Linked DNA regions of Homo sapiens. The protein of the gene in region 6 interacts with the protein of the main gene of each other region in a biochemical or structural test. Each region holds a gene or a part of one and is shown on either strand. Other genes may lie near its edges. The genes, in order: DAP3, PIAS2, CCDC62, REXO4, NLRP6, ESR2 and BCAS2.

Region 1 (2,710 bases), on a different chromosome or scaffold from region 6:
CAGGACTCCACATATGGACTCCACATATGGTGGCTGGCTACTCGTGCTCTACGTGGCCACAAATGCTATATATTAAAAAGAGGTGGCTGGGCACAGTGACTCACACCTGTAATCCCAGCACCTTGGGAGGCTGAGATGGGCATATTGCTTGAGCCCAGGAGTTCCAGACGAGCCTGGGCCATGTGGTAAAACCCTGTCTCGACAGAAAATACAAAAATTAGCCAGGAGTGGTGCTGCGTGCCTCTAGCCCCAGGTACTCGGGAGGCTGAGGATTGCTTGAGACCAGGAGGTTGAGATTGCAGTGAGCTGCGATTGCTCCACTACACATACTGTCACAGTATGGGTGACAGAGTAAGACCATGTCTACACACACAAAAAAAAAGGCAATGCTTGAGGAGGCGGATGCTACTTGTGTGAATACACACACATACACACGCACACACACATATTGTGTGTATGTATTTTGGACAGTTTTGGCTTTTGAAACAAAGTTAATGTTTCATATTTTCAAAGGAATATGGTGGCTCATGCTGGTAATCCCAGCACTTTGGGTGGCCAAGGAGGGCAGATCGCCTGAGGTCAGGAGTTCGAGATCAGCCTGGCCAACATGGTGAAAATACTAAAAATACAAAATTACTGTCTCTACTAAAAATACAAAAATTAGCCGGGCACGGTGGCTCATGCCTGTAATCCCAGCACTTTGGGAGGCTGAGGCGGGCAGATCACAAGGTCAGGAGTTCAAGACCTGCCTGGCCAATATGGTGAAACCCCATCTCTACTAAATTACAAAAATTAGCTGGGCGTGGTGGCATGCACCTGTCGTCCCAGCTACTCGGGAGACTGAGGCAGAAGAATTGCTTAAACTCGGGAGGTGGATGTTGCAGTGAGCCGAGATTAAGCCACTGCACTCCAGCCTGGTGACAGAGCAAGACTCCATCTCAAAAAAAAAAAAAAAAAAAAAATTAGCCAGGCGTGGTGATGCGTGCCTGTAATCCCAGCTACTTGGGAGGCTGAGGCAGGAGAATCACTTGAACCTGGGAGGTGGAGGTTGCAGTGAGCTGAGATTGCACCACTGCACTCCAGCGTGGGTGACAGAGCAAGACTTCATCTCAAATAAAATAAAATAAAAAATAAAAATAATGGGAAAAAATACGCTAGATGGAAAACAAATGGAAACAAATGAAGTAATCAAACTGTATTTCTTTTTTTTTTTTCATTTTCTTGAGACTGAGTTTTGCTCCTGTTGCCCAGGCTAGAGTGCAATGGCACGATCTCGGCTCACTGCAACCTCTGCCTCCTGGGTTCAAGCGATTCTCCTGTCTCAGCCTCACGAGTAGCTGGCATTACATGCCTGCACCACCATGCCCAGCTAATTTTTTGTATTTTTAGTAGAGACAGGATTTCATCATGTTGGCCAGGCTGGTCTTGAACTCCTGACCTCAGGTGATCCGCCCGCCCTGGCCTCCCAAAGTGCAGGGATTATAGGCGTGAGCCACTGCGCCCGGCCCAAGGAACTTATTTTTTTCTTTCTTTTTCACTGTCTCCCAGGCTGGAGTGCATTGGCACATCTTAGCTCACTGCAACCTCTGCCTCCCAGGGTCAAGCGATTCTCCCACCTCAGCCTTCGGAGTATCTGGGACTATAGGCGCCCCACCACGCCCGGCTAATTTTTTTTTCTTTTTTTTTTTTTTTCATTTTTTGGTAGAGACGGGGTTTCACCATGTTGGCCAGGCCGGTCTAGATCTCCTGACCTCGTGATCTGCCCGCCTCGGCCTCCCAAAGTGCTGGGATTATAGGCATGAGCCACCACGCCCAGCCTGAGAGCTATCAAATCTGAAACTACTTTTCATATATTCTAGTATTGAGCTAATAAGTAAATATACTATGGCTACTGGCAGCAGATTTCTCATTATTTTAGATTAGAGTTACAGATATGGAAAGGGTATAATGACTGCTGTGATGGTAGCATGGAATTGGCTACTAGTAGGAACTCATAGTTTTTTAATATGATTAGAGAAACAAACGCAGATGTGTGTGGATGTGTATAAACATGTATATGCATATGGTTCACACATATACATACATACATGTATGTATGTACATCTATTTATGAACTTTGCTGTGAGGGCCTAGGAGAAAGGACACCTCAGTAGCAGTGAGTATACCTAGGACTCAGGCCTTGGTTGCTAAATACCAGTCTCCTCTAAAATAAGCCAATGCTCTTTGGAGAAATGGAGATTCCAGGGCTGGGCATGGGAAGTATAAGAGGGGTCTGGAACATATTCTCATGACAGAAAATAAAGAAGTGGTCAAAGAATGATAGGAGCTGGATATGGTGGCTCACGCCAGTAATCCCAGCACTTTAGGAGGCCGAGGTGGGAGGATTGCCTGAGGCTAGCAGTTCAAGACCACCCTAGGCAACAACATAGTTAAGACCATGCCTCTAAAAAAAAAAAGGAAAGAAAAGAAAAAGACAACATTCAGTGCTGGGTGTGGTGGCATGTGCTCAAGGCTACAGTGAGCTATGATGGTGCTACTGCACTACAGCCTGGGTGACAGAGTGAGACCCTATCTCCAAAAAAATAATGATGGGGACATTTTAAAAGGATATAGAAGTTAGCTTGAAGGAGCTTTTTTTCCTGTTGAGATAGGGCCGCACTCTATTGCCCAGGCTGGAGTACACTGGCAAAATCAGGGCCCACTACAGCCT
Region 2 (4,380 bases), on a different chromosome or scaffold from region 6:
GTTGTTGGATTTGTTTTGCAGAGTTCATGGGGGAATGTTGGGTATTTAGTTTTGTTGCAATGCCTGCCTGGTTTTATTATCAGAGTAATGCTGACCTTGTACAATGAGTTGGAAGTAGTGGTATTATTTCTCCTCAAATATTTGGTAGAATTCCCTAGAGAAGACATTGGGCCTAGGATTTTCTTTGTGGCAAAGTTTTTAACTACAGATCCAACTTATTTAATAGACATAGGGCTTCTTAGATTATCTGTTTCTTTTGGAGTGAGTGTAAATAAGTTTGACTAGAAACTGATTTTTCTGTTTTTCTTTTTTTCTATTTGTTTGTTTTGTTCTTTGTTATTTCTCTTTTCTTGCTTTTACTATAATTTGCTTTTTTTTCTAGTTTCATAAAGTTACTGATTTGAGACTTTATTTCTAATTAGGGAAGATTAATGCTATAAATTTTCCTTTAAATACTACTTCAGTGTTTAAATAATACAGTCCACAAATTTTATTACATTTTTATTTTCATTCAGTTTAAAATCTTATTTTTATCTTTGACTCATGTTTCTTTTGTTTAGTTTCCAAGTTTTCAGGTTTTTCTGGTACGGACTTAATTTGAACTTAATTCAAATACACTTATTTTAAATTTATTGAGACTTCTTTTATTTCCCTTTTCTTCCCTCCTTCCCCTACCCCATTATCCTTTTTTCTCGAAGTTAAAGTTTATAAATTATTTTACTATATAGTAACCTTTATCTGCTGATGTTTGTTTTTTGTGCTGTGTTAGAGGTTGTTCTTACTGCCAGCCTCAGCTAGGAGGCTCCAGGTATCTACTTCTCTCTAGCCATTTATACTCATTGAGTTACACAGGTGATGCTCAGTAAGTTACTTAACTATTATGTTGCCTGTTACAGATTTAAAACATAGGACAAAGGGAGTGTAATAATTGTTGTAAAGTATAAAGTATTGCAATACCAAAAGAAAAGGGGGTCAGCTAACATTACTTATGTTTTCAAGGTAATGTGTATTACTTTCTTATTTCACCTTTAGGCAAAGCTGTTGATCACATGTATGTACTTCTTAATTGTTTTTTAGGCTTTTTATGGAAATTCTCAATGACTGTTCTGATGTAGATGAGATCAAATTCCAAGAAGATGGTTCTTGGTGTCCAATGAGACCGAAGAAAGAAGCTATGAAAGTATCCAGCCAACCGTGTACAAAAATAGAAAGTATGTGTAGAATAGCAGCAGAGAGTAAAGCAGTGAGACTCGTGCAACATTATCATTAATCTTGGCCCCTAGAACTATACGTTTGGAATTCAGCTTGTTGACTCAGTCTTTTGATGATATATAGTTTTCCCCCAAATGATTTTTATTCTTTCCTGAAGGAATGTGCTAAAGTTTATACCATCTTATCAGCTATTTCATAGTATATTTTTCCTGTGTAGAATAAAGGAAACATTCATCTAAAATCATTTTAAAATATGATGTTTGTTACAAAACAAAAAGTCACAAATGAATTTATATGGACAGTTTTTCAGAATTGTTCTTAGAGTATCTGTAGGTGGAACCCTAGGTGGAGGTGAGGTTAGAGAGGCTGCATCATTGGTTAATGGCCTTGGTGGTTTGGGGATGGTCACAGGTTAGTTGCTCAGAAAGTAAACAAATTGTTACCTTCCATTTCTTTGTGGAGAAGAATTTTAACATTGCCTTGATTACCTAGAATGTATACTCATCCATCAACTGCCTGCATCCATCCACACTAAGTAGGGAAACTGAGGGCATTTGGAGTAATTGAAACGCACAGGTGAACTTAGAGTTTCTTTTTATCTAACAGTCTCATTGAAACCCACACGTGAACTTAGAGTTTCTTTTTATCTAACAGTCTACTCACTGCATTTCAGTTTTGTTCTGATTACATTTGAAGTTCTAACAAACAATGTAATGAATGGAGTAAGAAGAAAGGGGAAAAAATAAAGGATTTATGCCATTATTAATTATTCCTCTGCGATTGACACTAAACCTGAGTGCAGTGACCAAGGTTTCTCTCATCTTTCAGAAAAATGGGGAGTGATTTAGTTGATAAGTTTCTGTTGCTTTTCCATTATCAACTGTCATTCATTTTTAACTAAATACATTACAGATAATAACATACTTTTCTGTGAAAATGTGAGTTAACAAATATGGTATGTGAGACTGTCTTTGTGGGTAGAAAGAACCTACGTGATTAGCAGATAATTCATAAGAAAAGTTTAAATGTCTTAGTAACTTAATTGAGAGGTTTGGGTTTTTTTCAACTTATCAAGATGAAAGTTTTTATCAAGTTCTGGCTTATGGTGAAAAGTCTGTACTTTCTTTGATATAAGCATAATTGCTAGAATGGAAATATCTGGTTCTGAGCTAACTGTGCCACATGTGTGCGAGAATACATAGCTGTTGAACTCACCCATTCTTGTCCCATGACCTGAGACCAGTTCCCTAACTCTGCGTGTCTTTCTGTAAAACGACTGCTGACCTGCAGAGACAGGATGAGCAGTAGGAGCTGCACAAATCCTTCAGTGGTATTGGAGGCATAACTAAGAACATTCTGTCTGAATGAGACTTCTAACCATCTGTCAAGGAATAGTGCTCACCTGTCTCCCTAGGTGAACAACCATTTTACAGACAGAGGTCTGGAGTTAGGGAGTTGGTATTTGTCCATGGGTTGGAGTATGTGGCTTCACTGGCTATATGTTGTCAGGAACATACTATACTGAATATACTAGACTCTACCACTAGAGTTTATTTGTGTTATACCTTTAATTTTTTTTTCCTTTTGTTTCTTTACATGCAGGTTCAAGCGTCCTCAGTAAGCCTTGTTCAGTGACTGTAGCCAGTGAGGCAAGCAAGAAGAAAGTAGATGTTATTGATCTTACAATAGAAAGCTCTTCTGACGAAGAGGAAGACCCTCCTGCCAAAAGGAAATGCATCTTTATGTCAGAAACACAAAGCAGCCCAACCAAAGGGTTTGTTAATTTATAGTTCACTATTGTTCATTACCCTTGCAACTAATTGCTCTTGGATAGATTTATAAATGTCTCTTTGGGAAATGGCATAACTGTAGAAGGCTATTTTAATTTGCCTTTGTTGAGTTGAAATATTTTCGAGTAAGCACATTGTTTATAGGAAGCAAATTTTGATGGAGAAAATATTTACATCTTTGGAAAGTGAGCGTGTGAGGTATTTATTTCCTACCTGAGACTTTTTGTTATTTTCTTGAACCTGTTTGTAAGGAAATTTGGCATCTCAGACCAGATGAGAAAGTCTGGTGTAATGGAGTGTGGAACTGGGAATCTGACAAGTATGGATTCCAATTTTGGCACACCATCGCTTACTTGTTCTGTGATCTTAGATGAAATACTTAATTTGATTGAGCCTCTTTTTTGTGTTCTGTTAAATGGAGCTAAATAACGCCTATATTACAGGATCATTTTCAGGTTTTAATGAGATGAAAGAAAGCCTCGGTGTCAGGCATGTGGTAATTTCCCAATAAAAATTGATTCCTTTCCCTTTTCACCCTCTCCAGGGCAAAATATAGGTGGGTAGGATGGCATTCTACCTGAATTTTAGCGTGGATTCTCTGTAAGTTATCTGGCAGAAGGCATTACTGACCTGCATTAAAAATCAGGTTTGGGTATTTAACAATAGTTGCTTTTTCAGAGAGGTTTTGAACCATAAAAGGAGATAACAGGAGAGTTCTCCTGGCTGTCTACGAACACATTCTTTCAAACTTGGGTTTGCTAGTGTCATCTTTTTGGCCTCTTGGTCCACTTGGTTTTCTAATGGCTTTACTGAGTTATAATTTACATAGCATAAAATGTACCCATCTTAAGTATATAATGGCACAATTCAGTGATTTTAGTAAATACATAGAGCTGTGCAATCATCACCATGATTCAGTAGTAGAATATTTTCAACACCCAAAAAACTTTCTTCATGTTCTTTTGTAGTTTATTCCTATTTACACCCCAAATCTAGGCAATCGTTTTTTTGTGTCTATAATGCCTGTTTAGACATTTTATATAAAATGTCTTGTTTTGCAACATTGTTTATTTTTATAATTTTAAGAATTAAACCTTTTCAGCTGCCTTCTTTGCTGTTAAAATACTTACATTTCCAAATATAATTTACACATATATTAAAGGCATATATTTACTTCTACCCATTTAATTAGAATGAGGTGGGGTTTTTGTGTGTGTGGAACAAAATGAGGAAGTATTTCAAGTGGATTTTTTCCTGGTGTGCCAATCATTTATTGCTCCTTTGAGACAAATTGGTTGGTACATCTGTAATTTAAATGATAAACAGAAAATGAAGTTATAATTTTGAAATGGTTACGTTCAAAATGTATTTTGAAGGG
Region 3 (3,500 bases), on a different chromosome or scaffold from region 6:
AGTGTAGATGTTTAAAAATTAACTTTCTAGTTCTGCTCCCAGCTGGAATTAAGTGCCGTTTATGAAGAACTAGAATCCTCTTTCAGTTTTACGGTTAAGTATTCATTCAGTATTGGTGTCTGCTTTCTGCCTTCCACATAGATGAGAAATCTGCTTTTGGATGAAGAAAACACAACATTAATAAAATACAATCAATTAATATTGGAGAGCATGCTATAAGCTCCTGGCGTCTAAAATATTAACTCTACATCCTGATTTTCATCAACATCAGGACATGCAAAATACTATAAATATGAAAACTCAGCGGAGAGAGGGAGGGGAGAGGAGGAGGGATGGGGGCGGGGACGGCGCTGCTCAGGCTCTCTGCTTCCCCAGTGTCTTTGAAATGCTGATATGCTTACCTTGAAAAGATCCGAAATGCCTGTACGCTTTAGCTTATCAAACTGGGTTCTGAGGAAACCGCATATGAAATGCAGGTTTGATAGAAGTAAACACAAATCCAGAAAGTGCTTACTGGGTCAATACACGTTTTTATGAAGATTTTACTCGATGTAAAACTTTTTTTTTTTTTTTTTTTTGAGACGGAGTTTCGTTCTTGTCGCCCAGGCTGGAGTGCAGTGGCCAAATCTCCACTCATTGCAACCACCGCCTCCCGGGTTCAAGCCATTCTCCTGCATCAGCCTCCCCAGTAGCTGGGATTACAGGCATGCGCCTCCATGCCCGGCTAATTTTTTTTTTTGGTATTTTTAGTAGAGACGGGGTTTCGCCATGTTGGCCAGGATGGTCTCAAACTCCTGACCTCAGGCGATCCGCCCACCTCGGCCTCCCAAAGTGCTGAGATTACAGGTGTGAGCCACCGCGCCCAGCTACCCCATGTAAAACTTTTATAAAACTTTACTCCACATAAAGACTTCTTGGCTAGGCGTGGGGGGCCACGCCTTTAATCCCAGCACTTTGGGAGGCCGAGGCGGGCGGATCACTTAAGCTCAGGAGTTCGAGACCAGCCTGGCCAACGTGGCGAAACCCCGTCTCTACTAAAAATACAAAAAAAAAAAAAATTAGCCGGGCATGGTGGCACATGCCTGTAATCCCAGCTACTTGGGAGGCTGAAGCAGGAGAATCGCTTGAACCCGGGAGGCGGAGGTTGCAGTGAGCTGAGATCGCACCACTGCACTCCAGACTGGGAGACAAGAGCAAAACTCTGTCTCAAAAAAAAAAAAAAAAAAAAATTAGCCAGGTGTGGTGATGCGCACCTGTAATCCCAGCTGCTTGGGAGACTGAGGCAGGAGAATCGCTTGAACCTGGGAGGTGGAGGTTGCAGTGAGCTGAGATTGCACCACTGCACTCCAGCCTGGGCGACAGAGCAAGACTCCAACTCAAAAACAAACAAACAAAAAACTTCTTTCTGGACAGACAGATGAAATGCTAAAACATTAATTTTGATTTTTTTTCAGCTATAATTTTTTTTCTTTTCTTTTTTTTTTTGAGACTGAGTTTCACTCTTGTTGCCCAGGCTGGTGTGCAATGGCACGATCTCGGCTCACTGCAACCTCCGCCTCCTGGGTTCAAGCGATTCTCTTGCCTCAGCCTCCTGAGTAGCTGGGATTACAGGCATGCACCACCAAACCCAGCTAATTTTTTGTATTTTTAGTAGAGACAGGGTTTCACCATGTTGGCCAGGCTGGTCTCAAACTCCCGACCTCAGGTGATCTGCCTGCCTCGGCCTCCCAAAGTGCTGGGATTATAGGCATGAGCCACCATGCCTGGCCCATATACCACATTTTCTTTATCCATTAGTTGATTGATGGGCATCTGCGCTGGTTCCGTATTTTTGCAATTGCGAATTGTGCTGCTATAAACATGTGTGTACAAGTGTCTTTTTCATATACTTTTCCTCCACGTAGATACCCAGTAGTGGGATTATTGGATCAAATCGGAGTTCTACTTTTAGTTCTTTATGGATAACCTCCACACTGTTTTCCATAGGGGTTGTACTAGTTTACATTCCCACCAGCAGTGTAAAAGTGTTCCCTTTTTACCACATCCATGCCAACATCTATTATTTCTTGATTTTTAAATTATGGCCATTCTTGCATGAGTAAGGTGGTACTGCATTGTGGTTTTTCTGTTTGTTTGGTTTTTTGTTTGTTTGTTTAGAGACAGAGTCTCATTATTGTCGCCCGGCTGGAGTGCAATGGTGCAATCTTGGCTAATTGCAACCTCCGCCTCCCAGGTTCCAGAAATTCTCCTACCTCAGCCTCCCGAGTAGCTGGGATTACAGGTGCCCGCCACCATGCTTGGCTAATTTTTGTATTTTTAGTAGAAACGCGGTTTCACCATGTTGGCCAGGCTTGTCTCAAACTCCTGGCCTCAAGTGATCCACCCGCCTTGGCCTCCCAAAGTGCTATGATTATGGGCATGAGCCACTGCGCCCGGCCCGCATTGTGGTTTTGATTTGCATTCCCCTGATAATTAGTGATGTTGAACATCTTTTCATATTAGATTCTGATTTTTAAAGCTGTGTCTATGTATTCACTTCCCTAGATTTAAAATTCTAGGTATTGAGAATAATAACTTTTTTTTTTTGAGACGGAGTCTTGCTCTGTTGCCCAGGCTAGAGTGCAGTGGTGCCATCTTGGCTCACTGCAACTTCTGCCTCCTGGGTTCAAGTGATTCTCCTGCCTCAGCCTCCCAAGTAGCTGGGATTACAGGCGCCCACTACCGCGCCTGGCTAATTTTTGTATTTTTAGTAGTGACAGACCAGGCTGGTCTCGAACTCCTGACCTCGTGATCCAGCCGCCTCAGCCTCCCAAAGTGATGGGATTACACGTGTGAGCCACCACGCCCGGCCTTTTTTTTTTTTTTTTTAAGAGACAAGGTCTCACTGTGTTCCCAGGCTGGAGTGCAGGAGAACTTTTTGATCTGCATTTCTTTGCAAGTAATTGACATTTTACTCTGATTAAATTTAGAAGTATGCATAAATTGGTCGAGCAAAAGAGAAAGTATTACAAGTCAAACAAATGCATGGCCTTGACTCAACGTTATCGATGTTCCCAAGTTACTTATTAAATATTAATTGAGATATAAGGTGAGATAAGCAAAGGTGACTTACTCGTGATCACGATGAATACTGAAGTTGCCTTTTGTTTCCTTCAATAACTGACAAAGGTATTTTTTTGAGCTGACTCTTCTGGGACCTCTGACTTCTAGAAAACAACTCCCAGATTAGTATTCAGGATAGAGAAACTAAAAAATTCTTAAGAAGACTAAACACAAATATAGCAGAAATGCCTTTAAGAGATGTTAGATGAGGCTGGGCGTGGTGGCTCATGCCTATAATCCCAGCACTTTGGGAGGCCAGGGTGGGCGGATCACTTGAGATCAGGAATTCAAGAGCAGCCTGGCCAGTATGGCAAAACCCCATCTCTACCAAAAATACAAAAATGAGCTGGACATCGTGGCGCCCGCCTGTAATTCCAGCTACTTGGGAAGCTGAGGTG
Region 4 (3,976 bases), on a different chromosome or scaffold from region 6:
GCTGTTTCTTTGCTTATCTTATTATAATGCATTTTGCACCTGCTCCTTCATGCATACAAAATGTCAAACTCATTCTACACCTTGGGTACCTGTTGAGTGGCTGGACACCACAGACCACTTCCCTTTTCAGCTTATCTAGAAAGAATTTTGGAGTTAACTTCCCTCACAGCTTGGGCCAACATCCTGCTACACAGAAATCGCTTTTTTTTTTTTTACAAGATTCCCTGGTTTGCTACTGCTGTGAAGATCTCAGGAAGGTGGGGGGTGTCATAAATGAAAAGAAAAGCTTCTGTCAAACTGGAGTGGCTGAAGAACTGCTAGCAGCCACACACCTTGGCTGTCACCCAAGCAGAGGCTCCTGTAGTCTTAGAGCCCAGCTTCCTCCCTGTGTTCAAATCCCCAGTGGGAGTGGGCGCCACCACAGTGCGATGATGAGGCGGGTGCTACTTACCTGTTCTGTGATAGGTAAAGAACTGAAGGGCTGACTTTCTTGGATGAATTAGAAAACACTCCAAAGTTTCCCTATAGCACACATCCCTTCCATTCACTTATTTTGCTTTTCTTTCTTGGGAGAAGGAAGAAGAGTTGGTGTTCAAGAAATCCCACAGAACCCTGGGGCTGCCCACGGGAATTTGACTGGTCCTGTGTGTTAAGACAGGAATGTCTGCACTGAGATACTGTGCAGAGTATTAGGAGGTTCAAGAAGCGCTCGGGGAGGCTGAGGTGGGAGGATTGCTTGAGGTCAGGAGTTGAAGACCAGCCTGGGCAACAAAGTGAAACCCCATCTGTATTAGTTCATTGTGCACTGCTATAAAGGAATACCTGTGTTTGGTAATTTATAAAGAAAAAACGTTTATGTAGCTCATGGTTTTGCAGGTTGTACAAGAAGCATGGTGCCAGCATCTGCTTCTGGTGAGGCCGAAGGAAGCTTCCCATCATGGTGTAAGGTGAAGGGGGAGCAGGTGTGTTGCGTGGTGAGAGAGCAAGCAAAAAAGGTGCTAGGCTCTTTTTAAACAACCAGCTCTCAAATGAACCAGCAGAGTGAGAACTTACTCGTTACTGAGGGGAGGGCACCAAGTCATTCATGAGGGATCTACCCCCATGACCCAATACCTCCTATGGGCCCCATCTCCACCACTGGGGATCACATTTCTTTTTTAAAAAAACTACTTTTTACTTTTATTTAGAGATGGAATCTCACCATGTTGCCCAGGCTGGACTTGAACTCCTGAGCTCAAGTGATCCTCCTGCCTGGGCCTCCCAAAGTGCTGGGATTACACGTGTGGGCTACTCGGGAGGCTGAGGCAGGAGAATCACTGGAGCCCAGGCAGCAGTGAGCTATGATCCTAACAGGAGGTAGCTCCAAGGGAGCTCCAAGGGATGTGGTAAGAATGTATGAGTGACGCACGTGGAAGAGTGTCTAGGAGAGAGCAGGCAACCTCTACAGAAGTGCAGGTCACTAGGGAGACAGCAGGTACAACACAGCCTTAAAAGCATGGACTCCAGAGTCAGCCACCTGGTTCCCAGCCGCAATCTTAGATGATCTATTTAAACTTTTCCAGCCTATTTCCTCATCTGTACAATAGCGATGATGGAAGTGTCCACCTCACAGTCTTATTGTGGGGATTGCAACACGCATGGCATAGAGCACATGGCAGAGTGCACATTTTTAGGAGCTCAATTAGTATTTACTTCAAGACCGTAAGTGTCGCTAGAACCCCATCACATGTCTGCTATCTGCTTTTCACTTCTACACAGGAATCTTCTTTCTCCCTGTCTTGCTACACAGACCAGTGTGTTCTTTCGTTGTTGTTGTTTGAGATGGAGTCTCGCTCTGTCGCCCAGGCTGGAGTGCAGTGGCGCGATTTCGGCTTACTACTGCCTCTGCCTCCCGGGTTCAAGCGATTCTTCTGCCTCAGGCTCCCCGAGTAGCTGCGACTACCGGCGCGCGCCATCACGCCCGGCTAATATTTTTTGTACTTTTTTAGTAGACACGGGGTTTCACCATGTTGGCCGGGCTGGTCTTGAACTCTTGACCTCAGGGGATCTGCCCGCCTCGGCCTCCCAAAGTGCTGGGATCACAGGCGTGAGGCCCCGCGCCCGGCCTGGTTTCGGGATTTTAAGCTAAATTTCTCTTTGTAAAATCCATTCTAGTTAGTTCATTATGCAAAAGGTACAAGGGTTTATCTTTGCTTTTTTGTACTTGAAATAATTCTTTCATCAATTTCTTTCAAGCAAACAAGTTCGAGACCTCCCTCAACAGGCCACCTTTCTTGTGAAAAGCTGTTTACAAGATTTCGATTCAAATCTGCCTTTACAGGTCTTTTGGGGCTACCCAAGTCTTTCCCTCCGTCGCGTTCTGCGGGAATGAGCTGCGCAGCGCTCCGCCCGGGCCCCCTCAAGCCTCACCTCTTGCAGCGCCTTCCAGTTTTGAGAAAAGTCTTCTGGTGCCTTTGGAGGTCGCACCACAGCACCGGGGCCGCTTGCTGGCTTCTTGCTTACTTCCCGCGCCTTGCTTTTCCAAAACCTTTTTTTCTTCTTGTTTTTCTTCCGAGTGAGCGTCTTGACAGGACCCGGCTTAGCCACGGGGCTGCTCGGGGCGCGCTTGGAGGCGGGGACCTTCGCCTTCCCCATCCTGCTGCCGTCCAGCGCCTGGGCCGGCGGCCACCCGAGACCCCGGCCTCCCCGGGCCCGGCGCCCTGGCAGCACAAGCGCCTGCCCAGGCCAGGCCGAAACACACCCACCGCAGGGACCCCGTCCAGGAAAAGACTCCGGAAGAGACCCCGCACGCGTTGCGCATACCTCAGCACGCACGCTCCAGTCCCCGGAAGCGCTCGTCTCTCCACAACCGGCTGGAAACCGGATCCCTGCCTCTGGTTCCGCGCAGCCTGGGCGGTTCACCCGCACGGGACTTGGGCCGCCGCCTTAGCCAGCGGCATCCGGGGTCATCGACCTCGAGTTTGACTGGGGCAAGCCGAGGACCTCCCCAAGATCCGGGATGGGGATGAGAGATGCGAACGCCGGAAGGGAACTGGGGGGCCGCTGTGTGTGTAGCACCTGGTAGGGCAGCTGAGCTGGGGGCACTGGGCGGTGGGGCTAGTGAGAGCCGGGCTAGGTCGCTCGCCTGCGTCCTGGACTCTCGAGCCTTTCCCGCCTTGGGCTGCTCCTTGCTCAGCCTCACAGCGGCTCATCTTCCACGTACAGTGGGGAAACTGAGGCCCAGGCACCGGGAGGAGTTCCTGCCAGTTCACTCTGTAGCAGGACGAGCCGCAGACAAGAACCCCTCAGACACCGAATTGTAGAAGGAAAGGGCTTTATTTAGTGGGGAGCATCGGCAGACTCACGTCTCCAAAAACCGAGCTCTCTGAGTGAGCAATTCCTGTCCCTTTTAAGGGCTTACAACCCTAAGGGGGTCTGTGTGAGAGGGTCGTGATCGATTGAGCAAGCAGGGGGTACGTGACTGGGGGCTGCATGCACCGGTAATCAGAACGCAACAGAACAGGACAGGGATTTTCACAATGCTTTTCCATACAATGTCTGAAATCTATAGATAACATAACCGGTTAGGTCAAGGATTGATCTTTAACCAGGCCCAGGGCGCGGCGCCGGGCTGTCTGCCTGTGGATTTTATTTCTGCCTTTTAGTTTTTACTTCTTTATTTGGAAGCAGAAATTGGGCATAAGACAATATGAGGGGTGGTCTCCTCCCTTACTTCTGCCGCCTGGGTTCAAGCGATTCTCCTGCCTCAGCCTCCTGAGTAGCTGGGACTATAGGTGCACGCCACCACTCTCTGCCAATTTTTGTATTTTTAGTAGACCTGGGGTTTCGCCACGTTGGCCAGGCTGTCTTGAACTCCTGACCTCCAGTGATCCATCCGCCTCGGCCTCCCAAAGCGCTGGGATTACAGGTGTGAGCCACCGTGCCCGGCCGGGAGTGGGTAGATTTGATGTGCGTGTGTAACAGGCAGAGGTTGATG
Region 5 (4,977 bases), on a different chromosome or scaffold from region 6:
GTGTCCTCGAGCCCTTTGGCCCCCTCGGTCACCTCTGGTGCCACTCCGGGGCAGCCCTGTCCCTGTCCCTGCACCCACCGCAGGGCCTCCTGCTTCACACGCTCTGAAACCATGCAGCCGAAGTGGCGCTCGATGTCGCGCATCCGCTCCGCGCTCAGCAGTCCGAAGAGGAAGCGCGTGGTGAGCACCAAGTGGCTGTGCGGCTGGGCGTCCCCACGCAGGAGTGTCCCAACGCCGCCAGCCGCGGTCCTGGGCACCCCGCCGTCCTCCAGCAGGTAGGACAGTGCCGCGAGGAACTCCTGGAAGCTCTGGTCGATGAACTGGTAGGTGACCTCTGTCTCCAGCACGCCCGGCAGCTCCTTTTTGCTGAGAAACAGCGTCTGCACTTTGGAGCCACGAAGCTCCAGTTGCTCCAGTTCCTTCTCGGCAAACTGCGCCCTGCGTCCGAGGACGCCCTCGCGGGCCAGGCGGCACAGATTGCGCAGGTCGCCCTGCAACCGGGGCCCGTCGGCTACCGGAGCCGAGCTCAGAACGCTGGTGATGAAAAGCAGGTACACTGACGTGGTGGTCTTGGACGTGCGCGACAGGTCCCGACCGAGCTCCAGCTGCTGGCGCAGCACGGTGCACACGATCCAGCACACGAAGGGCACGAAGCACAGCGCGAACAGCGTCTCGTTCTCCTTCACGAAGCGGTAGGCGCGCTCGGCCCTCCTCTCATCCCGGAAATACTTGTAGAAATACTTCTTCTTGTCCTTGTCGGAGAAGCCGCGCACCTCGGCGCACTGCGGGGAACACAGGCGGCCCTGCAGCCTCCCGGGGGCGGCGGCGCGCGTGGTCACCAGCAGGAGGGCCGTGGGCAGCAGCGCCTTGCTCAGCAGCCCGCCTAGCACCCGCGCGCCGCTCGCCGCCTCGAAGGGGTCTGTGCAGGGCGCGGCCTCGGGGCCCCCCAGCGCCGGCAGCTCGTCCGCGCCGTCCAGGATGAAGAGCAGCCGCTGCGGCTGGGCCAGCATCTGCGGCACCGGCGCGCCGCGGTCGGGGCACTGGTCCAGGATCAGGTCAGCCAGGCTGCGCGTGCCCGGCCTCTCCAGCAGCTCGCCGCAGGGCATGAAGAAGGCGAAGTCCACCTGGCCCTGGTACAGCTTGCCCGCCGCCCAGTCGTACAGGATCTTTTTGGCCGCCATGGTCTTGCCGATGCCCGCCGGGCCCTGCAGCACCACGGTCAGCGGCCGCCGGCCCTCCTCGTCGCGGCGGAAGAGGCGGTTGAAAGTGTGCGTGTCCGAGCGCCGCGCGCGCCCCGGCTCAGGCTCTTCCGCGGGCCCCATCGCCTCCTCCGGGGCGGCGCTCTCGGGCGCGATGAGCAGCTTGGTGAAGCGCTTGGTGATCTTCACGGAGCGGGCGTTCCTCTCCTTCACCCGAGCGTGCAGCTGCAGCACGTGCTCCCGGTACTTCTTCTTGTACTCTGGGCGCAGCGGGAGACAGCGCGGGGACAAGGGTCGGAGGTGGGGCAGGCTGCGCCCTCCGGGAGCCCACGCCCTCCCCGGCCCTGCTCAGGCCTCAGTTTCCTCTACGGGACCACAGCCCACGCCCCTGGCGGCCCTCCCACCCCGGTCCTCCCCGGGACCCTCCAAGTGGGGTTGGGGACACTCGTGCCCCCCCAGCGAGAGACCCACCGGACACGGAGAGCAGCGTCCCGGAGCCGAGCCCGAGCCCTGGAAGGGAAACTGGGGTGAGGTTCCGCCGAGGGCGGGAACAGGGGAAGGCGCCACGGGGGTCCGAGTCACCCTGAGGAGCACGCAGGGTCCTACCCCTGGGGCCCGCGAATTTGTGGATAAAACGCGCGGGGGCCGGGGACCGCGCCGGGGCTTCTCCGGGAAGCGGGAAGGAGGGCAGCCCAGCCTCTGCCCAGACAGGAGGGACCTCCCGCGCAGAACTCACGCTGCAGCCGCCGCTCCTGGAGCTGCGCCGCCACGTCGCGCGCGTCCGCCCTCTTGAGGGTCTTGCGGGCCACCTCCAGGGCAGGCTCCGGGCCGTAGAACTGGGCCAGCTGCTCCGCGAGGTCCACGGCGTCCGCGCGCTCCAGCCGCCCCCACGGGATGCTGCGTCCGTCCGGGCCCACGTCGCGCAGCTTGTGGCGGAAGCGCTTCAGCTGCTCTTGGCTCAGTTCCTCCAGCGCAGCCAGGAGCAGCTCGCGGGCCACCGCGAGGCGCGGCCCCGTGCTGGAGGCGGGCGGGCGCGGGTCATCGGGGAGCGGCCCTCGGGTGACCCCCGCCCGCCCCCGACTCTGGCGCCGGAGAACCCACCGCGGGCAGGGCCTCAGGGAGTCCCGGGCCAAGCATCGTCTGGATCCATGGGGTGGCGGGAGGGGGCAACGGGGAGTGACCCCAGACTTTTCCCTCCCCCGTCCCCGGACCCGGGTCGGGGCGTCTTGGTGTTCTTCGCCCTCTGAGGGTGAAGTGGGCACTGGCCGCCGCTGATCTGAGCTCTGGGGGGCACCTTCCTCCCCTGCACCTCCCTTTCTGCTTCTGTCCTTCCACACCCCAGGACAGGTCACATGCCCCGAGGGAGGTATTTCCAAGGAACCCTGAGCTCTCTTTCCTCGCTTTCCTTCTTTTCCCTCTCTTCCCGATCCCGGAGCAGAACTGGCCTCTTTGGCAGCAGACACTGCCAGGCCCAGGCTGTATTCCTGGGCCCCCACCCCTGCCACACTTTGGTGGGGCCCAGCTTGGGGCCTTGCACCAGGGCCTGAATCTGAGCCCCTGGTGGGGAACAGACTCCACAAATGCCCTCTGTGGGGAGGCAGTGCTTGGCTCCTGAGCCTGGGAGTGAGGGTGGGGGAAGGATGTGGACAAGGGTGGAGAGCCTGAGGAAGTCAGCGGGTGAGGTGGAGGCCCCAGAGGGCTGAGACCAGCCGGTTCCCAGTGACCACCCTGGGGCCAGCACTCACCTGGAGCAGGGGGCCTCTGGCTGGTCCATGGGGTCTCTTCCTCCCTGGGTCTAGCACTCCGGGGCAGAGGTGGGGATCAGAGAGGTGATTCCTTCACAGGCTGAGCTGGAGCCAAGTCTTAGAGGTTGTCCAGCCCGGTCCATTCCCCGGGTCCACACACCGCAGCTCAGCTGGCACGAGATGCTGTTGGGCACCGTGGCACACGCAGAGCATTGCCCTTTAAGGGCTCCGTTTGGTGACCTTTGATTTTCTTACTCCTTTATCCCATTAATGTTCCCCAAGAACCCCTGGGTGTGGCATCGGGGCATGGCTGTGAGCAGGCAGCTTCAGAGCAAGGTGGGTTGTGTGAAGGAGGTGGCTGGCTCAGAGCCAGGCCTTCAGCTGAGGCCTGGGGAGAGGTTAGACTCTGAAGGCAGGGGTGAGGAAAGACTTCCAGGTAGAGGGAACAGGGGGGACAGCCAGCAGCACGCACCATATATGGGAGGGAAGGCAGTCTCCAGGGAGACGCCGGGCAGGGGTCTGCACTGCAGCCTCCCCACCCGACCTGAACAGCTGGCGGGCAGAGGCTGGACGTCAGGGGTGTTCGAGACCCCTGGGACCAAATGTGAGAGTGTGTGGAACGGGGGGGTTAATATGTGGAAATGAGAGGTGCTGGGTAAAATAAGGCTGAGACCTACTGGGCTGCATTCCCAGGAGGGTAGACATTCTAAGTCACAGGATGAGACAGGAGGTTGACACAAGATACAGGTCATAAAGGCCTTGCTGATAATGGTGTAAAGAAGCTGGCCCAAAACCACCAGAACCAAGATGGCAATGAGAGTGACCTCTGGTCATCCTCACAGCTCATTACTCTAGTTACAGTACATTAGCACACTAAAAGACACTCCCACCAACACGATGACAGTTTATAAATGCCATGGCAAAGTCAGGAAGTTACCCTATATGGTCTAAAAGGGGAGGAACCCTCAGTTCTGAGAATTGCCCACCACTTTCCTGGAAAACTCATGAATAATCCACTCCTCGTTTAGCATATAATCAAGAAATAACCATAAAAATGGGCAACCAGCAGCCTTTGGGGCTGCTCTGCCTATAGAATAGCCATTCTTTTATTCCTTTACTTTCTCAATAAACTTGCTCTCACTTTACTCTTTTTTTTTTTTTTTTTTTTTTCATGGAGTCTCGTTCTGTCGCCAGGCGGAGTGCAGTGGCACGATCTCGGCTCACTTCAAACTCCGCCTCCTGGGTTCAAGCAATTCTCCTGCCTCAGCCTCCTGAGTAGCTGGAATTACAGGCATGCACCACCATGCCTGGCTAATTTTTGTATTTTTAGTAGAGACGGGGTTTCACCATGTTGGTCAGGCTGGCCTTGAACTCTTGACCTTGTGATCTGCCTGCCTTGGACCTCCCAAAGTGCTGGGATTACTGGTGTGAGCGACCATGCCTGGCACTTTACTCTTTATGGATTTGACTCAAATTCTTTCTTGCATGAGATCCAAGAACCATGATGTCTGGATCAAGACCTCTTTCTGATAACAGTTTGGCTGTGTGTCCCCACCCAAATCTCATGTTGAATTGTAATTCCCAATGTTGGGGGAGAGACCTGGTGGCAGGTGATTGGATCATGAAGGTGGATTTCGTCCTTGCTGTTCTTGTAATAGTGAGTAAGTTCTCATGAGATCTGGTTGTTTGAAAGTGTGTAGCATGTCCCACTTTGCTCTCTCTGTCCTTTTGGCCACATGAATATTTGCCTGCTTCCCCTTTGCTTTCTGCCATGATTGTAAGTTTCCTGAGGCCTCCCCAGAAGCAAAAGTCTGTACAGCCCACAGAACCAGGAGCTAGTTAAACCTCTTTTCTTTATAAATTACCCTGTCTCAGGTATGTCTTTACAGCAATGTGAGAATAGACTAAGACAAATTATAACAAGTAAAGAGATTGAATTACTAATTACAGGGAAAAAAAACTTTCCCACAAAGAAAAGCTCTCAAGGGAATGCTTCCCAACTCATTCTCTGAGGCCTGTGACACTGATACCAA
Region 6 (4,380 bases):
GTTAGAGAACTGACTTCTGGAGAGTCATTAAAAGGCTAGGTGCTTTTTGTTTGGATATATTTCAGATATATCAGATTCACATGATTCACAGATTAACTCTTTGTCAGTGGCATCTTGAATAGTTAGGTACTTGGTAGCCAATGCAAAGAGTTTTTCTTCCTAAGCAGAGCCATAATAAGGGGAAGAAATGATGAACTTACACCATTGTAATAGTTCTCTGAGACAGGAGAACAGGTAGCAAAAAAAGACCTCCTTTCTACCAGAGGTCTGTAAAAATAAGTCAACAAACCCATTCTGGTTGAGAAGCCCTCCTCTAAAACAGAGATATAAACTGGTCAAAGGAAAGACTCCCCAAAAGATTTAATTTCTTTAACATTGTAGGGCAGAGTTTTCCCAACACATCGATTGAATGTTCAAACATGGCCTCAGTACAATGTTCTGGTACAACAGGAAAAAATTGTCTCTAAAGAGTTTAATTGTTGGGCCTGGCATGGAATTTCACCTGGCCAACCAAAGAACCAGTACCCAGACATCCTGATTCTAAGAATTATTCATTTATTTGCATGTCAATTTTCTTTAGTCACCATAACCTAAAATAGTTGGTCCATATCCTGGGTGGTGAACAGGCTTTGTTTTCTGTCCAGAGACCTCTCTCTCTCTCCCAGCACACACCCCTGTATTTGGCCCTCTCAGGTCACATCTGAATTCAGCCAGAAAGCTTTTTGTACACATGGGATCGTGCATGGTGTTCTAATGTACTGGCTGGGAAACATACTATGGCTTTTGAATTAAAAGAAAAAAGTAGTATTTAAAATTCCCAATTTTGACAATGATTCATGGACAAGAAAAAGTTTGGCCCTAGAAATGGCAGAAAAACACTCCAAAAAGACTACACTTTTTTTTTTTTTTTTTTGAGATGGAGTCTTGCTCTGTTGCCCAGGCTGGAGTGCAGTGGTGCAATCTTGGCTCACTGCAAGCTCCACCTCCCGGGTTCAGCCATTCTCCTGCCTCAGCCTCTCAAGTAGCTGGGACTACAGGTGCCCGCCACCATGCCCAGCTAATTTTTTCTATTTTTTAGTAGAGACGGGGTTTCACCATGTTAGCCAGGATGGTCTTGATCTCTTGACCTCGTGACCCGCCCGCCTTGGGCTCCCAAAGTGCTGGGATTACAGGCATGAGCCACCGTGCCAGCCAAGACTAGACTGGTTTTTATCAAAGCACCTGTAAATCTAGTTAATAAGAAATCAGTCACCCGGGCGCGGGTGGCTCATGCCTGTAATCCCAGCACTTTGAGAGGCCAAGGTGGGCAGATCACCTGAAATCAGGAGTTCGGGACCAGCCTGGCCAACATGGAGAAACCCAGTCTCTACTAAAAATACAAAATTAGCCGGGTGTGGCAGCGCTTGCCTGTAAACCCAGCTACTCAGAAGGCTGAGGCAGGAGAATCGCTTGAACCCAGGAGGTGGAGGTTGCGGTGAGCCGAGATCACGCCACTGCACTCCAACCTAGGTGACAAGAGCAAAACTCTGTCTCAAAAAAAAAAAAAAAAAAAAGGTCAGCCACCATCAAGCCTGTTCTTATGTATATTCTATCAATGGATAGAGCAGAACATTCATTCTAGCCCCAGCTCTGCCTGAAAGCCAGGCAATCTTAGACAAATCCACAAACTCCCTGAGCTGCCACATCTTCTTCAGTAGAATCAGGTACCTATTTGGTGCTGTACCTTTTCACGGTGCTCTGAGGGTGAAATGAGATGATGTCTGTGAAAGGATTCTGAGGCCGGGCGCAGTGGCTCACGCCTGTAACCCCAGCACTTTGGGAGGCCAAGGTGGGCAGATCACCTGAGGTCGGGAGTTTGAGACCAGCCTAACCAACATGGAGAAACCCCGTCTCTACTAAAAATACAAAATTAGCCGGGCATGGTGGCACATGCCTGTAATCCCAGCTACTCGGGAGGATGAGGCAGGACAATCGCTTGAACCTGGGAGGTGGAGGTTGCAGTGAGCTGAGATTGTGCCATTACACTCCAGCCTGGGCAACAAGAGCAAAACTTCATTTCAAAAAAAATAAAGAAAAAGAAAAAGAAAAAAAAAAAGAAAGCATTCTGTAAGGTATTATTACACATCCAAGAAGATGAAGCCAGTCTATTGGTATATCACTGGATACACATTTAGTGTTGGTTGGAATTTCCAGACAAGTTACAATGTCTTTATGGCCACCCTGAAGATTTTTGCCTCCTAATTTTACTTTTTGACTTCTGTCCACAGAAATCCATCACCCCTAGTCCAGATAGCTGGGCTGCTGGTAGCCTGCCAACACTGTGTGTGTGGACAAAATGCCACATATTCCTGATGCCATATTCTCAAGCTTGCAGACTAGGAGGATAAGTCTAGGAGGATAAGAATAGAGGATAAGTCCTCATCCCTATTCTTCTTCCACCTGCCCATCACACTTTCCCAAGCATTCAGTTCAAATGCTCCACATTTGTGTGTCCTGCAGAAGTAAAAAATTCACGCTCACAAAGCAGCAACTAGAAGGAATTTCATGGAAAAGATTTAAAAAGATTTCTTAAGCAACAAGCATCCTTGATGTGCATAAGTAGCTGTTTGACAATTATTAGCTTTTTTGGGGGGTGGGGGTTATACTCTAGCTCTGTAACTCAGGCTAGAGTGTAGTGGCAAGATCATGGCCTACTGCAGCCTTGATCTCCTGGGCTCAAGGGATCCTCCAAACTCAGCCCCCCAAGTAGCTGGGACTAAAGGCATGCACCATCATGCCCAGCTGATTTTTAAATTTTTGTAGAGATAGGGTCTCACTGTGTTGCCCAGATTGATCTTGAACTCCTTGCCTCAAGCAATCCTCCCACCTCGGCCTCCCAAAGTGCTGTGATCACAGGCATGAACCACCACACCTGGCCAATTATTATCTTTAAATGTATTCTTATTTATTTATTTATTTATTTATTTAGAGATAGAGTTTTGCTTTGTTGCCCAGGCTGGAATGCAGTGGCATGATCGCGGCTCACTGTAAACTCGGCCTCCCAGGTTCAAGCAATTCTCATGCCTCAGCCTCCTGAGTAGCTGGGACTACAGGCTTGAGCCACCATGGCCAGCTAATTTTTTGTATTCTTAACAGAGACAAGGTTTCATTATTTGGCCAGGCTGGTCTTGAACTCCTGCCCTCAAGTGATCCAGCCACCTAGGCCTCCCAAAGTGCTGAGATTACAGGCGTGAGCCACCACACCCAGCCTTTTTAAATATATTCTTTCAAAACAAAATATTAAGGCCCTCAATTAATTTAATATTAGGAAGATAAAACACTCCAAAATCACCAGAGAACTCATCATTAATAACTGATTTGCATGTAATTCTTAAGAACATGTACATAAGGAAACCCTGTTTCCTTCTAAAATGAGGAAAAGCTAATTCTCCTAGTAACCAATTGGCGCTTATTTAGTTGGATAGGAAAGAGTTTCAAGGGTTTGAATAGGGTAGGAGGACCAAGCCTCGAAGGCAGGGGTGGGAGAGAGTTCATCAGTCTTCTCAAGTGTCTTCTCTCTCAACAGCAAGTTTCTGCTCTTCCCTAACACCAACAACAGCCACAGACCATGCTCTGTAGGAACTGGACCAAATTCAAATATTCATTTGGGACAGGGTCAGAGAGAATTCCGAGTGAAGGGATTCAAGATGACACAGCCAATCCAGAAGTTAGGCTGAATGCACTCAACTCCCCTTCCAGGCCTGGGTTTGACAGTAGAACACACAACAATTTACTAACAAAATGCTGCAGTCTGGCTTTGAGGAAACATATACAAGTCCAGCAATCTATCTTTCTAGGTCACCCTAACTCTCCTGCCCTCTCTCAAGTACACCCACACAAAGATTCTCCACTAAAAGCCCTTCATTTTCAAGACCTGTCATAATTCCAGCTAGGAAGGCCAACTATCCAGTTTGCTAGCTCCTCATAAACTTGCCACTCTGCATATCCTAGTTACTACCACTGTAACTGGGTATGCAAGGTAAGTTACATATTTAAAATACAGGCTGTTTTTCATAGAACAAAGGAAAAAGGAAAAAGACATCAATTTTATATATATATATGTTAGCAGTACCTACCAATAACAGGCTCCTAACTGTATACTGAATTGAATACTGTGTTAAACAGTGAAAAATATTAGTTTACAAAAGGTTATACATCTCCACCCTGCAGGAAAATCTAGACTTCAAGACATGAGCACAGAAATTTAAAAATCCTGACATCTACAAATAAGTTGGACACAGACCTAAGCCCCTATGAAGATAAATATTTTACCTTCAGCAATTGTAATCACTCTGCATTTTAAATGTCTTCAATTTGTCATTTTCAATCCCTGTTTTGCTT
Region 7 (3,159 bases), on a different chromosome or scaffold from region 6:
GAGCTCAAGCAATCCTCCAACCTCAGCCTCCTGAAGAGCTTAGACTACAGGTGCATGCCATCATGCCTGGCTCATTTAAAAGCATTTTTTTGTAGAGACAGGGTCTCGTTATGTTGCCCAGGCTGGCTTGAACTCCTGGCTTCAAGCAATCCTCCTACCTTGGCCTACCAAGGCACTAGGATTACAATGTGAGTCACCACACCTGGCTCTCTGTATTATTTCTTACAATTGCATGTGAATCTATAATTATCTAAAAATAAAAGTTTAATAAAAAAGCAAATTAGAAACAGATGAGAGAACTTGCAAACCAGAAGAAAGAGGAAAGAGTGATGAAGATAGTATTTAATCAACAAAAAGGAAAGAGGCAATAGTTTATTAAATTGAGGAAAAAGCGTGAAAGGGTACCAACGAGACTGGTAAGACGTACATGGAGACGGTGGAACAAGAATGACTTGAGTAATGAAGGGAGAAAGGGAATGGCCAAGCAAAAAGGAAGAGAGAAATGACACAAATATTCAAGATTATATTGTATAAAGGTATACATGTGTGTATGTAAAAGAACATTTTTAAAAATGCATAAACCTGAGGTACAAAAAAATTACCAAGTATGAAATCTCCCTCCCTACAAGATTTTATAAAATAATTTTTTTCCTTTTTTTTTTTTTAAAGACTAGGTCTTGCTCTGTTGCCCAGGCTGGAGTGCAGTGGTGTGATTATGACTCACTGCAGCTTCAACCTTCCAGGTTAAGCAATCCTCCTGCCTCAGCCTCCAGAGTAGCTGGGACTACAGACATGTGCCACCGTGCCTATTTTTTTTTTTTTTCCGTTTAAAAGGAGAATAAAGGTAGAGTTCTATTCAAGGCCAAAAATACTAGACTAAAAACAGGGTATTCTAAGACCAGAATCCTTTAGCAATGGTTCAATTTAGCAAAGGATCCTTCGCCAATGGTTCAATTCTCGTTTATAGTTCTCTTTAACACCTTATAAAGAGGCAGAGACGGGGAAGGGTGAATTCAGAAAATAGCATTTCTTTGTTACCTGTGGCATCCCATTTGAATGCTATTTGAATCATATTATTGAATCGACCTTAGAAAGGGCTAAACAATTTAAAAGATGATGGAATTATAGATACTCACTTTGACTCCATTTCTCTCAATTTAGATCCAGCTGTGAGTTGCATGTTCTTTCTCTGCCAGTTTAAATCTTGAATATGTTTTCTGTAAAAAATTATTTATACAACCCAATTACATTTTAATGTAAGACCTAAATCAACAGAAAACTCTATAACACAAGAGAATATCTTAATCCCATGAGAACAATATTATGTACAGTTATAGGCTAACTGTAGAAATTACCTTTCTTCTAATTATTTTTTGATTACAAGTTTCATAAAACATGCTCATTGTGAGAAATCACACACACACACACACACAAGCACACACAGATTACAAGTCTCAAGTCCCCCCTCTCATGCATGTCTCCTTTTTCCTGATAACTCCTGTTGAGTTTTTGCTGGGTGTCCTTCCAGGCTTTCCTATATGTGTGTGTAGAAATTGGTTTTAAAAATCAGATTATATGTGTTATTCTGCAACTTTTCCCACTCTAAAAGTGCCTTTCTATGTTTGCAGACTTGCAAGCTGCAAGTGGCAGAGATGTTTTCAGACCTCAGGCCTATTTCTCCTCTACTTAGGTAGGGCAAACCCAGTGTCAGATGTTGAACAAAGAGAGTGGATCAATTGTTTACTTTCATCTGGCTGCAGTCTCTTTGCTTTCTTTTTCCTCCTATTTTCTATTTATTAAAGGTTCACTTAAACTTCATTCTGTAATAGGAAAAAACAATTTACCTTAACTTCTGAAGTTCCTTCTGTGCGTGTTCAATCATATGAACTAGATTTCTGAAGGAAAAGAGGAAAATCAGATTAAAATACATTAAAATAGTACCAATTAAAAGTGAACTTTTTCAAGTTTTTCTGCCAAAAATCATATTTATGGAGCTCTGTGCCAAGAACTATGTTGGACACTCCATAATCGAGGACTGTCACTCATGCTGGAATGCAGTGGTGTGATCATGGCTCACTGCAGCCTTCACCTCCCATGATCAAGTAATCTTCCTGCCTCAGCCTCCCAAGGAGCTGCAATCCTCCCACCTTGGCCTCCCAAACTGCTGGGATTACCATGCCCTGCCTGATCTTGGAGTACTTAGGTTACTTTTTTTTTTTTGAGACAGTCTCGTTCTGTTGCCCAGGCTGGAGCGAAGTGGTGAGATCTCAGCTCACTGCAGCCTCTGCTTCCTGGTTCAAGAGATTCTCCTGCCTCAGCCTCCCAAGTAGCTGGGATTACAGGCATGTACTGCCATGCCTTGCTAATTTTTGTATTTTTTTTTTTAGTAGAGATGGGGTTTCACTATGTCGGCCAGGCTGGTCTCGAACTCCTGACCTCAAGTGATCCATCTGCCTCGGCCTCCCAAAGTGCTGAGATAACAGGCGTGAGCCACTGTACCCAGCTTTTTTTTGCGGAGGGGAGGGACAGAGTCTTGCTCTCCTGTTGCTCAAGCTGGAGTGTAGTGGTGCAATCATGGCAGCCTCAACCTCCTGGGCTCAACTGATCCTCCCACTTCAGGCCTTCAAAGTAGCTTGGATTACAGGCATAAGCCACCATGCCCGGCTAATTTTCATTACTTTTTTGTAGAGACAGGGTTTCACCACGTTGTCCAGGCTGGTCTTGAACTCCTGGGCTCAAGCAATCTCCCCACCTCAGCCTCCAAAGTGTTGGAATTACATGTGTGAGCCACACGGCCTTTTGTCACTTCTTAAACTGTCATGACTTCTTGTCATAGAAAAGATGGAATATATCTGAGTACCCACTTATTTTATTTCTCAACCCCCTTTTATCTCTATATTTCTGCATATACATTCACCTTGTCATTCTCTCCTCCTGTCTACTGCTAACTAGAGAGAGGTGAGAAAAAGAAAACTGTTGTAGAATGAGATATCAGTCCATATTTGCATGTAACATATGCATAGCAAAATAAAAAATAGATACCAGTCCAGGTCAGCTGTAACTAGCACAGGGGAAAAGTTCAATAATACAGAGTACCATATAATTATTTTAGAGAAGTAATGAAACAGATTTTAATCTCTTTTTTAAGTTTAAATAACA

Evidence for each region.
Region 1: the proteins of ESR2 (region 6) and DAP3 form a complex in vitro, tested with the Homo sapiens proteins (one study listed by BioGRID).
Region 2: the proteins of ESR2 (region 6) and PIAS2 form a complex in vitro, tested with the Homo sapiens proteins (one study listed by BioGRID).
Region 3: the proteins of ESR2 (region 6) and CCDC62 form a complex in vitro, tested with the Homo sapiens proteins (one study listed by IntAct).
Region 4: the proteins of ESR2 (region 6) and REXO4 form a complex in vitro, tested with the Homo sapiens proteins (one study listed by BioGRID).
Region 5: the proteins of ESR2 (region 6) and NLRP6 form a complex in vitro, tested with the Homo sapiens proteins (one study listed by BioGRID).
Region 7: the proteins of ESR2 (region 6) and BCAS2 form a complex in vitro, tested with the Homo sapiens proteins (one study listed by BioGRID).

What each region holds. Positions count from the first base shown.
Region 1 is NC_000001.11:155,734,091-155,736,800, reverse strand, and holds part of DAP3 (small ribosomal subunit protein mS29), read right to left. Parts: intron 1-2,710. UniProt on the Homo sapiens protein: As a component of the mitochondrial small ribosomal subunit, it plays a role in the translation of mitochondrial mRNAs. Involved in mediating interferon-gamma-induced cell death. Displays GTPase activity in vitro.
Region 2 is NC_000018.10:46,826,565-46,830,944, reverse strand, and holds part of PIAS2 (E3 SUMO-protein ligase PIAS2), read left to right. Parts: intron 1-1,077; coding exon 1,078-1,211; intron 1,212-2,814; coding exon 2,815-2,986; coding exon of another isoform or gene 2,987-3,002; exon of another isoform or gene 3,003-4,380. UniProt on the Homo sapiens protein: Functions as an E3-type small ubiquitin-like modifier (SUMO) ligase, stabilizing the interaction between UBE2I and the substrate, and as a SUMO-tethering factor.
Region 3 is NC_000012.12:122,823,072-122,826,571, reverse strand, and holds part of CCDC62 (coiled-coil domain-containing protein 62), read right to left. Parts: intron 3,207-3,500; coding exon 3,153-3,206; 3' UTR 3,113-3,152; intron 154-3,112; exon of another isoform or gene 151-153; coding exon of another isoform or gene 103-150; 3' UTR 1-102. UniProt on the Homo sapiens protein: Nuclear receptor coactivator that can enhance preferentially estrogen receptors ESR1 and ESR2 transactivation.
Region 4 is NC_000009.12:133,415,211-133,419,186, forward strand, and holds the start of REXO4 (RNA exonuclease 4), read right to left. Parts: upstream 2,801-3,976; 5' UTR 2,635-2,800; coding exon 2,410-2,634; exon of another isoform or gene 452-2,409; intron 1-451.
Region 5 is NC_000011.10:276,566-281,542, reverse strand, and holds the start of NLRP6 (NACHT, LRR and PYD domains-containing protein 6), read right to left. Parts: upstream 3,137-4,977; 5' UTR 2,974-3,136; coding exon 2,945-2,973; intron 2,217-2,944; coding exon 1,936-2,216; intron 1,710-1,935; coding exon 1,671-1,709; intron 1,460-1,670; coding exon 1-1,459.
Region 6 is NC_000014.9:64,287,454-64,291,833, forward strand, and holds part of ESR2 (estrogen receptor beta), read right to left. Parts: intron 1-4,380.
Region 7 is NC_000001.11:114,568,856-114,572,014, forward strand, and holds part of BCAS2 (pre-mRNA-splicing factor SPF27), read right to left. Parts: intron 1,896-3,159; coding exon 1,845-1,895; intron 1,218-1,844; coding exon 1,137-1,217; intron 1-1,136. UniProt on the Homo sapiens protein: Required for pre-mRNA splicing as component of the activated spliceosome. Component of the PRP19-CDC5L complex that forms an integral part of the spliceosome and is required for activating pre-mRNA splicing.